2 separate regions of the Homo sapiens genome follow, and region 2 is linked to region 1. The links come from fine-mapping of genetic effects on gene expression. A gene starts in region 1. The other region holds a variant in brackets. All regions are shown on one strand. Distances are from middle to middle. Region 1 holds the start of ZDHHC4 (zDHHC palmitoyltransferase 4). Region 2 overlaps GRID2IP (Grid2 interacting protein).

What was found. PIP is the estimated chance that this variant, and not a neighbour inherited with it, causes the effect.
Region 2: its variant is fine-mapped to the expression of ZDHHC4 in whole blood (INTERVAL, PIP above 0.99).

Annotation. Positions count from the first base shown.
Region 1 is chr7:6,574,662-6,580,035 of GRCh38, reverse strand. ZDHHC4 (zDHHC palmitoyltransferase 4) reads right to left here and starts at 2,582. Exons shown (of 8, transcript NM_001134389.2): 1 at 2,538-2,582; 2 at 1,316-1,470. RefSeq lists an enhancer at 1,339-1,954 and a silencer at 2,233-2,562.
Region 2 is chr7:6,543,201-6,548,574 of GRCh38, reverse strand. All of the region lies in intron 1 of GRID2IP (Grid2 interacting protein), which reads left to right. Among named protein-coding and RNA genes, the nearest start is that of GRID2IP, 5.6 kb to the left of the region's middle. The variant G/A (reference allele first, on the strand shown) is at 2,729.

The DNA of each region.
Region 1 (5,374 bases):
AGCCTCCTGAGTAGCTGGGATTATAGGCACGCACCCCATGCCTGGCTAATTTTTGTATTTTTAGTAGAGATGAGGTTTCACCATGTTGGCCAGGCTGGTCTCGAACTCTTGAACTCAGGTGATCCACCTGCCTCGGCCTCCCAAAGTGCTGGGAGTACAGGCGTGAGCCACTGCACCTGCCCAAGATAAAAACTTTGAATCTAACACCCTAAGACTGTGGCCTGCCTTTGAAGCATCTCCAACTTGCAAATCCAAAATAAACCAAGAAAGAACATGCATCCTCCTTCCTTGCCCCCAGGCATGAATCATTCTTTTACTTCCTTAAATATTCACAAAGATACAAGATGTGTCCCCAAAGAATCTGCTGACAATGCCTTGAGAACAAGCATCTCCTAGAGGCAGTCAGGAGCCCTGCACCCAGAATCAGGCATCCTGTCCTAAGAAGCATCCCTCCAGGACACTGGCCACAACCATCAGGAATTACCCTCTGGAACCAGAGTCAACACACAGGCCTGCGTTAAAATACTGGATACTGAGGCCGAGCGTGGTGGCTCATGCCTGTAATCCCAACACTTTGGCATGTCGAGGCAGGCGGATCACGAGGTCAGGAGTTCGAGACCAGTCTGGCCAACATGGTGTAATCCCCATCTATACTAAAAACACAAAAATTAACCGGGCGTGGTGGCACATGCCTGTAATCCCAGCGACTCAGGGGGTGGAGGCAGGAGAATCTCTTGAACCCAGGAAGCGGAGGTTGCAGTGAGCCGAGATCGCGCCACTGCACTCCAGCCTGGGCAACAGAGCGAGACTCCGTTTCAAAAAAAAAAAAAGAAAAGACACTGGATACTGGAACTCTTTTCCATAGTGTAGCGGTTTAAGAAAAAAAAAGAAGAAAAAAAAGGTACTGGAATTGGCCGGCCGTAGTGGCTCGTGCCTGTACTCCCAGCACTTTGGAAGGCTGAGGTGGGAGGATCACTTGAACCCAGGAGTTCAAGACCAGCCTGGGCAACAAAGCGAGACCCCCATCTCTACAAAAAATACAAAAATTAGCCAAGTGTGGTTGCGCATGCCTGTGGAGGCTGAGGCGGGAGGATTGCTTGAGCACAGGAGTTCAAGCCTGGGCGACAGCATGAGACCCTGTCTCAAAAACAAACCAAAAAAGATACCGGAACTGGTCACTTTTGACCTTAGCAGATAAGATTCTGGGCTGTAATGCCAAGTGAGATAACCAAACAAGAAGCTATTCATGACATGATAGGTGAGAGTAAACAAACAGCAGCAATTCTCACGGGGTGATTCAGGGTACCCAGCCTACATTTCTCTTGGTTGGGTAATTTTCAGCCGGCAGCTCTGGCATTCCTCTTCCCAACATTCACAGATAATTCAAACAGCAGCTCCTCTTGGGCAGCAGTGTGTGCCTGGCATGACCAGTAGCTGCCGGACATGGTTCTTCCAGGAGCCTGGATCTGGCTGCAGAGACAGATCAATTCAACACCCACATAAGACGACAAGAGTTGCAGTCAAAGGCAGAATACCTGTGGAAAAGGATTTGGAAGTAGGGGATTTTCAGCACCCCCAGCATGAATGGGTAAGACTTTGGGAGAAATGGCCCAGACTAAGTTGCTTAGGCCTGCTCCCAAATCTTTGGGAGGCCCAGGCAGGAGGATAGCTTGAGGTTAAGAGTTCGAGACCAGCCTGGGCAACACAGTGAGATCACTGTCCCTACATAAAAATTTAAAAATCAGTGGGGCGTGGTGGCCCGCGCCTGTGGTCCCAGCTACTTGGGAGGCTGAGGTGGAAGGATGGCTTGAGCCCAGGAGGTCGAGGCTGCAGTGAGCTGTGATCGTGCCACTGCCTTCCAGCCTGGGCCATAGAGCTGGACCCCATCTCTAAAAACAATAAAAGAGGCCGGGCGCGGTGGCTCACGCCTATAATCCCAGCACTTTGGGAGGCCGAGGCGGGTAGAACACCTGAGGTCAGGAGTTCGAGACCAGCCTGACCAACATGGTGAAATCCGTCTCTACTAAATACAAAAAAAATTAGCTGGGCGTGATGGCGCATGCCTGTAATCCAAGCTACTGGGGAGGCTGAGGCAGAATTGCTTGAATCCGGGAGGCGGAGGGTGCAGTAAGCCGAGATCGCGCCACTGCACTACAGCCTGGGAAACAAGAGCGAAACCCCGTCTCAAAATACAATAATAATAAAGACTTTGTGAGAAACAGCTAGTTGGGAAGAAATAAGCCAAGTCGGTAGCCTTGGGTCTCTCCCCGCCACTCCCCATTAGGGCCTCCCGAAGCCACCCCCATCCAAGGCACCTCCTGGGCGGGCCTGGTCGGAGATTTCCCTGGGGGCTGGAGCCCTGGTAGGGGGACGTGGAGTGCAGCAGGCTCGGAGGGGACACCGGGGCCGCCCCGGACTCGGGCGAGGTGGGGGTGGGACGGCGGCCCTACACACAAGGGGAAAGGGAGGGTCAGAGGAGGAGACTGACGGTCCTGGGACAGCCCAAGCTTCCCACAGCCCCGCGGAGGCGGCCTTACCGCCAGCCGCTGGGCTCCGGCGCCTCCCGGGCGCGATACGAGACTTCCTGCGGGCTCGTGACATCAGCACGGCGCCCCTGAGGGGCTGACTTCCGGCGGAAGTGTGCGAGGGCCGCCGCGGGTTGCGGGGCTGGAGTAACAGTGACCTCCCCGGCGCCCTCGCAGCCAGCCTGGGGACCTCCGTGGCCGGGTGTAACCGCTGGGAAGTGCGATTTTATTTTATTTTATTTTATTTTATTTTATTTTATTTTATTTTATTTTATTTTATTTTATTTATTTTATTTTATTTATTTTATTTTATTTATTTTATTTTATTTATTTTATTTTATTTATTTTATTTTATTTTATTTTATTTTATTTTATTTTATTTTATTTATTTTATTTTATGTATTACCTATTTTCTTATTTACTTATGTATTCGTTCATTCATTCAGAAACAGCCTCGCTCTGTCGCCCAAGCCGGAGTGCAATGGCGCTATCCTAGCACACTACAACCTCCAACTCCTGGGCTCAAGCAATGCCTCCTGCCTCAGCCTCCCAAGTAGCTGGGACCACAGGTGCATGCCACCACACCCGCCTAATTTTTTTTTTTTTTTTTTTTTTTTTGTAGAGACGGGTGTCTCACTATGTTGCCCAAGCTGATCTCGAACTCCCGGGCTCAAGTGATCCTCCCACCTCGGCCTCCCAGAGTGTTGAGATTACAGGCGTGAGTCCCTGCACTGGGCTGGAAGTGGGATTTTAGAGCAGTATTGCCAGGAGACTTACAGGAGGACCGACCTGGGCCTGGTGGGGGCGATCATTCTGGGGCTGTGACAGGGACTAAGCTGCCCTGCGGCCTGCACAGAGACCAGTCATGTCCCTGCTCAGAGCCCAGCAGGGGGATCCAGGTGGCCCAGGGCAGTCACACTTAGGGGGCTCTCAGACTATGTCTGTGTGGTGGACAGAGTTTGCTTTCAGCCACCCACACTGTTGAGATCTAGCAGAACATTTCCAGCATCTTCCGTTGCAGAAGCGGGCAGAAAGCACAATGTGTACCCATCAGTCAGATTCCGCTCCATGTGTGTCCTTGCTCCTGATGACAAGGACATGTTGCTCTGTACAGCCCTAAATATCCTCGGGGCAGTGACAAATACTTGACCACAAACGTTGAGGATAAAAGGGAAGGGTGTTTGATGCTAGGCAGGCTTGGGGTAACAAGAGCTGCTTCCAAACATAGCCCTGAGAAGGCCCTGTGGGGTGTCCTTTGCTCTGACCATCTCTGAATCAGCTGAGGCCAGGGTCTATTCCTGATGCCTCTGAAGACCTGAGCCAGGCCTGTCCTCCTTTGAGGGGAAATGTCTGATCTCCAAACACTGGCCTTAAAGCTCTTCTCTTTTCCTGTCTCTTTGCTACCTACGTCAGCTTCTTGATGCGTTTTCTTTTCCTTTTTATGAAACTCCTTACCAACAGGATGCCTTCTCCTGTGTACATTGTATCCAAGGTCTTCATAAATTTATGGACCCAGAATTGAAAAACCAAGGCTCATACCTATAATTCCAGCACTTCAGGAGGCCGAGGTGGGAGGATCGCTTGAGCCCAGGAGTTTGGGAACAGTCTGGGCAACATATGGAGACCTTGTCTCTACAAAAAATTTAAAAATTAGCCGGGTGTGCTGGCATGCACATGTGGTCCCAGCTACTTAGGAAGCTGAGGTGGGAGGATTGTTTGAGCCCAGGAGGTCAAGGCTGCAGTGCGTTAGGATCACACCACTGCATTCCAGCCTGGACCACAAAACAAGACCCTGGTTCAGAAAAAAAAAAAAAAAAAGATTAATCTCTCAGCACTTGGTCAGTTCCTGAAACCTAGGCATGTTTGATTTTTTGCCTCTTTAAAACATCCAAGCGCAAACCTTGACACCTGCATTTTATAAATAGCATAAGAGAAAACAGACTACTTAAGCTTAAAACCAAAAATTCAAGTGTGATCAAAAGGATTGCCTTGCTTGTGATGCATGGAGCAAAGAATTCCTCTTTGGAGTGTTGCTAAACGCTCCTGTCAGCTCCTGAAACTGGACCTGCAGTATCAGTTTTTTACCTGCTGTGAGATCAGTTGACAGGATCAACCAGCTTTACACCACGATCTCTTGTCCCCAAGGGAATGATGGATGCTATACTTTGGAAATGGGATACAGGACTTCGTAGCTACGCTTGCAAAAGGCATATCACACATGATGCTTGTTTACAATCAGTGATTTATTGACCATGAGGAATTTTGCCATGGAGAAATTAAGAAGAAGGAAAGGAACATAAAAGTATTTTTGAACCATGCATAGTGGCTTATACCGGTAATCCCAACACTTTGGGAGGCTGAGGAGGGCTGATCCCTTGAGACCAGGAGTTTAAGACAAGGCTGAGCAACCTAGTGAGACCTCACCGCTACAAAAAAGTTTTCAATTAGTTAGGTGTGGTGGTGTACACCTGTAGTCTCAGCTACTTGGGGAGGCTGAGGCAGGATGAGGCAGGAAGATTGCTTGAGTCCAGGAATTTGAGACTGCAGTGAACCATGACTGTGCCACTGTATTTCAGCTTGGGCAATAGAGCAAGACCCTGTCTCAAAAAAAAAAAAAAAGAAAAGAAAAGAAAAAAAAAAGGACTGGATCTGTGTTGGCTTACTGTTATATCAGTAGCAACTATTTTAGCACCTAGCTCATAGTAGATGCCCAATAAAAATGTATCAACTGAATGAATGAAAGAAAATGATAACTTATATCAGAAGGAAATCTACATCCTTGATATCACTCAAAAAAAATTCCTGTGGCCAGTAGGTGGGGCCACAGTTGTCACTATTAGCTGGCTTGG
Region 2 (5,374 bases), 31 kb after region 1:
TGAGCCACCGCATCTGGCCAACTTTTTTTACATTATTTTGATTTTTAATTTTTGTGGGTACCTAATACGTGTATATATTTATGGGGTATCTGAGATACTCTAATACAGGCATGCAATGTGAAATAAGCATGTCATGGAGAATGGGGTACCCATCCCCTCAAGCATTTATCTTTTGAGTTATAAACAATCCATCTACACCGTTTAAGTTTGTATTTATTTTTTTTGGAGCCAGAGTCTCGCTCTGTTGCCCAGGGAATACAGTGGTACGATCTCGGCTCACTGCAACCTCCGCCTCCCGGGTTTAAGCAATTCTCCTGGCTCAGCCTCCCAAGGAGCTGGGATTACAGGCCCCCACCACCATGCCTGGCTAATTTTTGTATTTATAGTAGAGACACGGTTTCACTATGTTGTCCAGGCTGGTCTTGAACTCCTGACCTCAGGAGATCTGCCTACCTCGGCCTTCCAAAAGTGCTGGAATTACAGGTGTGAGCTACTGCACCTGGCCTAAGTTATTTTAAAATGGACAATTAAGTTATTATTGGCTATAGTCACCCTGTTGTGTTATCAAGCTCACAGACTTTTCCTCCGTGGAAGGGAATCTGCTCAGTTCTGCCCCAGCAGCACTTGGCCATGGGGTTTGGGAGGTCAGGGAGCCTGGAAACTTTGTCGGAGTTTGACTATTGCAGAAATGCCTCCCAGCCCACTGCCCAGGCATCAGGTCCCCACCCACTCTGGCCTCCTTCAGTGCCCAAGCTTGGTCCAGTCCTAACCCCTTCCAAATTAACCCCCTCAGGAGTGTCTCCTCCATCATGTACCCTAGCCTGATCCCCTGAATGGGCTTTTCTGACCCTGAGTAGACCAGCCTCTGTGGCCAGATACACACACTCGCATACACACAGGACTCAACTCCAGCTTCCCTACATCACCAAAGTCCAGATCTTCCAAAGCTGTGACTTTCTTCCTGTACCCACAACAGGCTCTGCTGCTATAACAAACAAACCCAACATTTTTTATTGTTGTTGTTTTTGAGACAGGGTCTAGCTCTGTTGCCCAGATTGGAGTGCAGTGGTACAATCATAGCTCACTACAGCCTCCAACTCCTGGGCTCAAGTGATCCTCCTGCCTCAGCCTCTCTAGTAGCTGGGACCACAGGTGTGCACCACCACACCTGGCTGATTAAGAAAAAAAAAAAAGACTGGGGAGATGAGGTCTTGCTATGTTGCCCAGGCTAGTCTCAAACTCCTGGCCTCAAGCAATTCTCCTGCCTCAGCCTCCCAAAGTGCTGGGATTATAGGTGTGAGCCACTGTGCCTGACCCAAAATCAACAACTTAGTGCGTTTGCACTACAGAAGTTTACTTTTCACCCACAGAGTCCTCTAGGGGGTCAGTAGACTTTCTAGGGTGGCTTGATGTCCATACGAGGTCTCAGCATTTCAGACTCCTCCATCTCTATGTGAAGCTTCAGGGTTCCCTATGGAAGAGGAAGAGAGCTTGGAAAATTGTGCATCTCCTCTTAGAACAGCACCTGTCCTCAATGCTCATTGGGCAGAACTAGGTACACTGCTCCTCCCTAAGGATGCTGGGAAATGTAGTCTAATGTGTGTCCAGGAAAGAGGGAAGACCTAGAAATATTGGTGAGTGCGAGTAATGCCTGCTACAATCCCAGATCACCTGCCATGGAGCCAAAGGTCTATCCCAGACTCCATCTAATCCCTGCAGAGTTGGAAGGGGGCACGTTCAGAGCTCCAAACAGGGCAGGATGCAAGAGAAGACCTGCCCAGGAGCAGGGCTGGGCAGCAACCCGCTGAGGGTAGAATCCGACAGGCTGCCCAGGCCAGCTGCAGTGTGTTTTCTGGCAAGGAGGAACGGGGAAGTGGAGGATTTTGGTTAGGGCTCGCTGGGCACCCACAAAAGCTGAGAGTGAATCTCCAAAAATGACTTCCTCTGGAAGATGAAGGGCCTCCGTGGAGCCCAGTTGGTTTTCTATCTTTTTTTTTTTTTTTTTGAGACAGAGTTTCGCTCTTGTTGCCCAGGCTGGAGTGCAATGGCGTGATCTTGGCTCACTGCAACCTCCGCCTCCTGGGTTCAAGCAATTCTCCTGCCTCAGCCTCCCAAGAAGCTGGGATTACAGGCATGTACCACCACGCCCGGCTAATTTTGTATTTTTTTTAGTAGAGACAGGCCAGGCTTGGTGGCTTGGCTGGGCACGGTGGCTCACACCTGTAATCCCAGCACTTTGGGAGGCCGAGGCAGGCAGGTCACCTGAGGTCAGGAGTTCAAGTAGAGATGGGGTTTCACCATGTTGGTCAAGCTAGTCGCAAACTCCTGACCTCAGGTGATCCACCTGCCTCTGCCTTCCAAAGTGCTGGGATTACAGGCATGAGCCACTGCGCCAGACTGGTTGGTTTTCAATCACCAGCCCTCCAGTTCTCGCCTGCGCTTTCTGCCTGCCCCAGTTTTTCCTCCTTGAAGTGGCTGATATTTAATAGAAAATCCATTAGTGTCCCGTGATGATACCTCATGCTTAGATGTAGGCTGAGAACATCTGGGTAATAACTGACACCGAAACCGCACTGTAGCACGGGCCCCAGGAGGGAGGAACTATTTTTTCCTCTTTCTTACATAAAACATCTCTGCAGCCAGCCATGTTCTCCTTTGAATTGAGGTTGCTGCTGACTTTGATTTCCAAACTGGCAACCTTCCCCAGCACGGCGCGTGCGTGGGGAGG[G/A]GGCGGCTGGTGCTGCCAGCCTGGCCCACTCACAGGGAGGGAAACAGTGGTGAGCTGGGGCCTGCAGGAAGTGCAATGCAAGGCTGCTTTTTGATTCAGTCCCATCCACATTCTCTGAGTGCCTAATATGTGCCAGGCGCTGTGCTTGGGGCTGGACAAGCATGAGACCCCGGATCATCACACCTGGGTGGGGGAGACAGACGGTTACACAGACTCATGGTGCATCTGTGCTAGGATTCAGACGTGTACAGAACGTGGCCTCTGACTGGAAACCCTCGAAGCTTCCCGCTACTTCTCCTCCCCTTTTGGAATCATCTAGAAAGCGGGTGGATATACAGTTCCAGAGTTCAAGAGCGAGCTCTCGGCTGAAGATCGAGGTCTGAGAGTCACTGTCTGGGGTTCTTCGCCAGAGCTGGGTCGTGGAGAGCCTCAAGTGCAATAGTGAACTGCAGTGGCAAAGGGCAGTGGTACAGAAACAGCACGTGTAGACGGCTCCAGACTACAGAAGGGAGGAGAATGAGCAGCTTTCAGGATCAAAGGAGGATTGTCTTTTATTTATTTATTTATGGAGACAGGGTCTTGATCTGTCACCCAGGCTGGAGCTCAGTGGTGTGATCATGGCTTACTGCAGCCTTGATTTCCCGGGCACAAGAGATCCTCCTACCTCGGCCTCCCAAGTATCTGGTAGCTGGGAATACAAGCGTGCACCACCATATCTGGCTAACTTTTTACTTTTTCTTTTCTTTCTTTTTTTTCTTTTGAGATGGAGTCTGTCTCTGTCACCCAGGCTGGAGTGCAGTGGCGCGATCTCGGCTTACTGCAAGCTCCGCCTCCCGGGTTCACACCATTCTCCTGCCTCAGCCTCCCGAGTAGCTGGGACTACAGGCGCCCGCCATCACGCCCACCTGGCTAATTTTTTTTCTATTTTTAGTAGAGACGGGGTTTCACCGTGTCAGTTGGGATGGTCTCGATCTCCTGACCTTGTGATCCGCCTGCCTCGGCCTCCCAAAGTGCTGGGATTACAGGCATGAGCCACCGCGCCCGGCTGTCTTTCATTTTTTAGAGACAGGGTCTGGTTATGTTGCCCAGGCTGGTCTCCAACTCCTGGCCTCAAGTGATCCTCCCGCCTTGTCCTCCCAAAGCTCTGGGATTATAGGCATGAGCTGCTGTGCCCAGCTTGTTATTTATTTATTTATAGCCTGAGAGAGACTTGAACATTTATATAAGCTGCAGGGAATGGAGAAGTAGATATACTGAAAACCATGCAGGCCGGGCACAGTGGCTCACACCTGTAAACCCAGCACATTGGGAGGCTGAGGCGGGTGGATCACCTGAGGTCAGGAGCTCGAGACTGCCTGGCCAACATGGAGAAACCCTGTCTCTACTAAAAACACAAAACATTAGCTGGTTGTGGTGGCGGGTGCCTGTAATCCCAGCTACTCAGGAGGGTGAGGCAGGAGCGTCGCTTGAACCCGGGAGGCAGAGGTTGCAATGAGCCGAGATCATGCCATTGCACTCCAGCCTGGGCAATAAGAGTGACACTCCATCTCAAAAAAAACAGAAAGAAAAAAGAAAAAGAAAACCATGCATTTACCAGTCATTGATCATGGGCCTATGATGTGCAGGACAGGGGAAACAGCCATGAACAACACAGGCAAGGAGCCTGACTTCACACACCTAACATTACTGCAGGGAAAGAGACAGTAAGCAAGTGGATTAATCAATACACAAGCTATTAAAGATCATGACAGGCCAGGCACGATGGCTCAGACGTGTAATTCCAACACTTTGGGAGGCCGAGGTGGGAGGATCACCTGAGGTCAGGAGTTTGAGACCAGCCTGGCCAACATGGTGAAACCCCATCTCTACAAAAATTACCAAAATGAGCCGGGCGTGGTGGCATTTGCCTATAATCCCAGCTACTTGGGAGGCTGAGTCAGGAGAACTGCTTGAACTCAGGAGGTGGAGGTTGCAGTGAGCCAAGATCCCACCACTGCACAGAGCGACAGAGTGAGCGACAGAGTGAGACTTTCTCTCAAATAATAATAATAATAATAAAATTAAATTAAATTAGCCAAGCACAGTGGCGTGCACCTGTGATCCTGGCTACTCGGAAGGCAGAGGTGGGAGGATCGCTTGAACACAGGAGTTCAAGGCCACAGGGAGCTATGATTGCACCACTGCACTCCAGCCTGGGCAACAGAGCAAGACCCTGACTCCAGAAAAAAAAAGATGATGATGAATAAAGTGGAGGCATAAATAGGGTGAGGTGAGAGTGACGCAACCCACTTTGACAGGGTGGCCAGGAAAGGCTGCCTGATGAGATGATCTTTGAGCTGAAAGCTGAATGACAAGTAGGTGGCAGGAAGAAAGGGGTGGAGACTGGGAATGGTGAGGTGTCTGTGGCCTGGTGATTTGGCCTTGACTACAAAGGGGGCTTTTTTTTTTTTTGAGACAGAGCCTCGCTCTGTCACCAGGCTGGAGTGCAGTGGCACGATCTTGGCTCACTGCAACCTCCGCCTCCCAGGCTCAAGCAATTCTCCTGCCTCAGCCTCCCGAGTAACTGGGATTACAGGCGTTTGCCATCAGATGCTCAGCTAATTTTTGTATTTGTAGTAGAGATGGGGTTTCACCATGTTGGCCAGG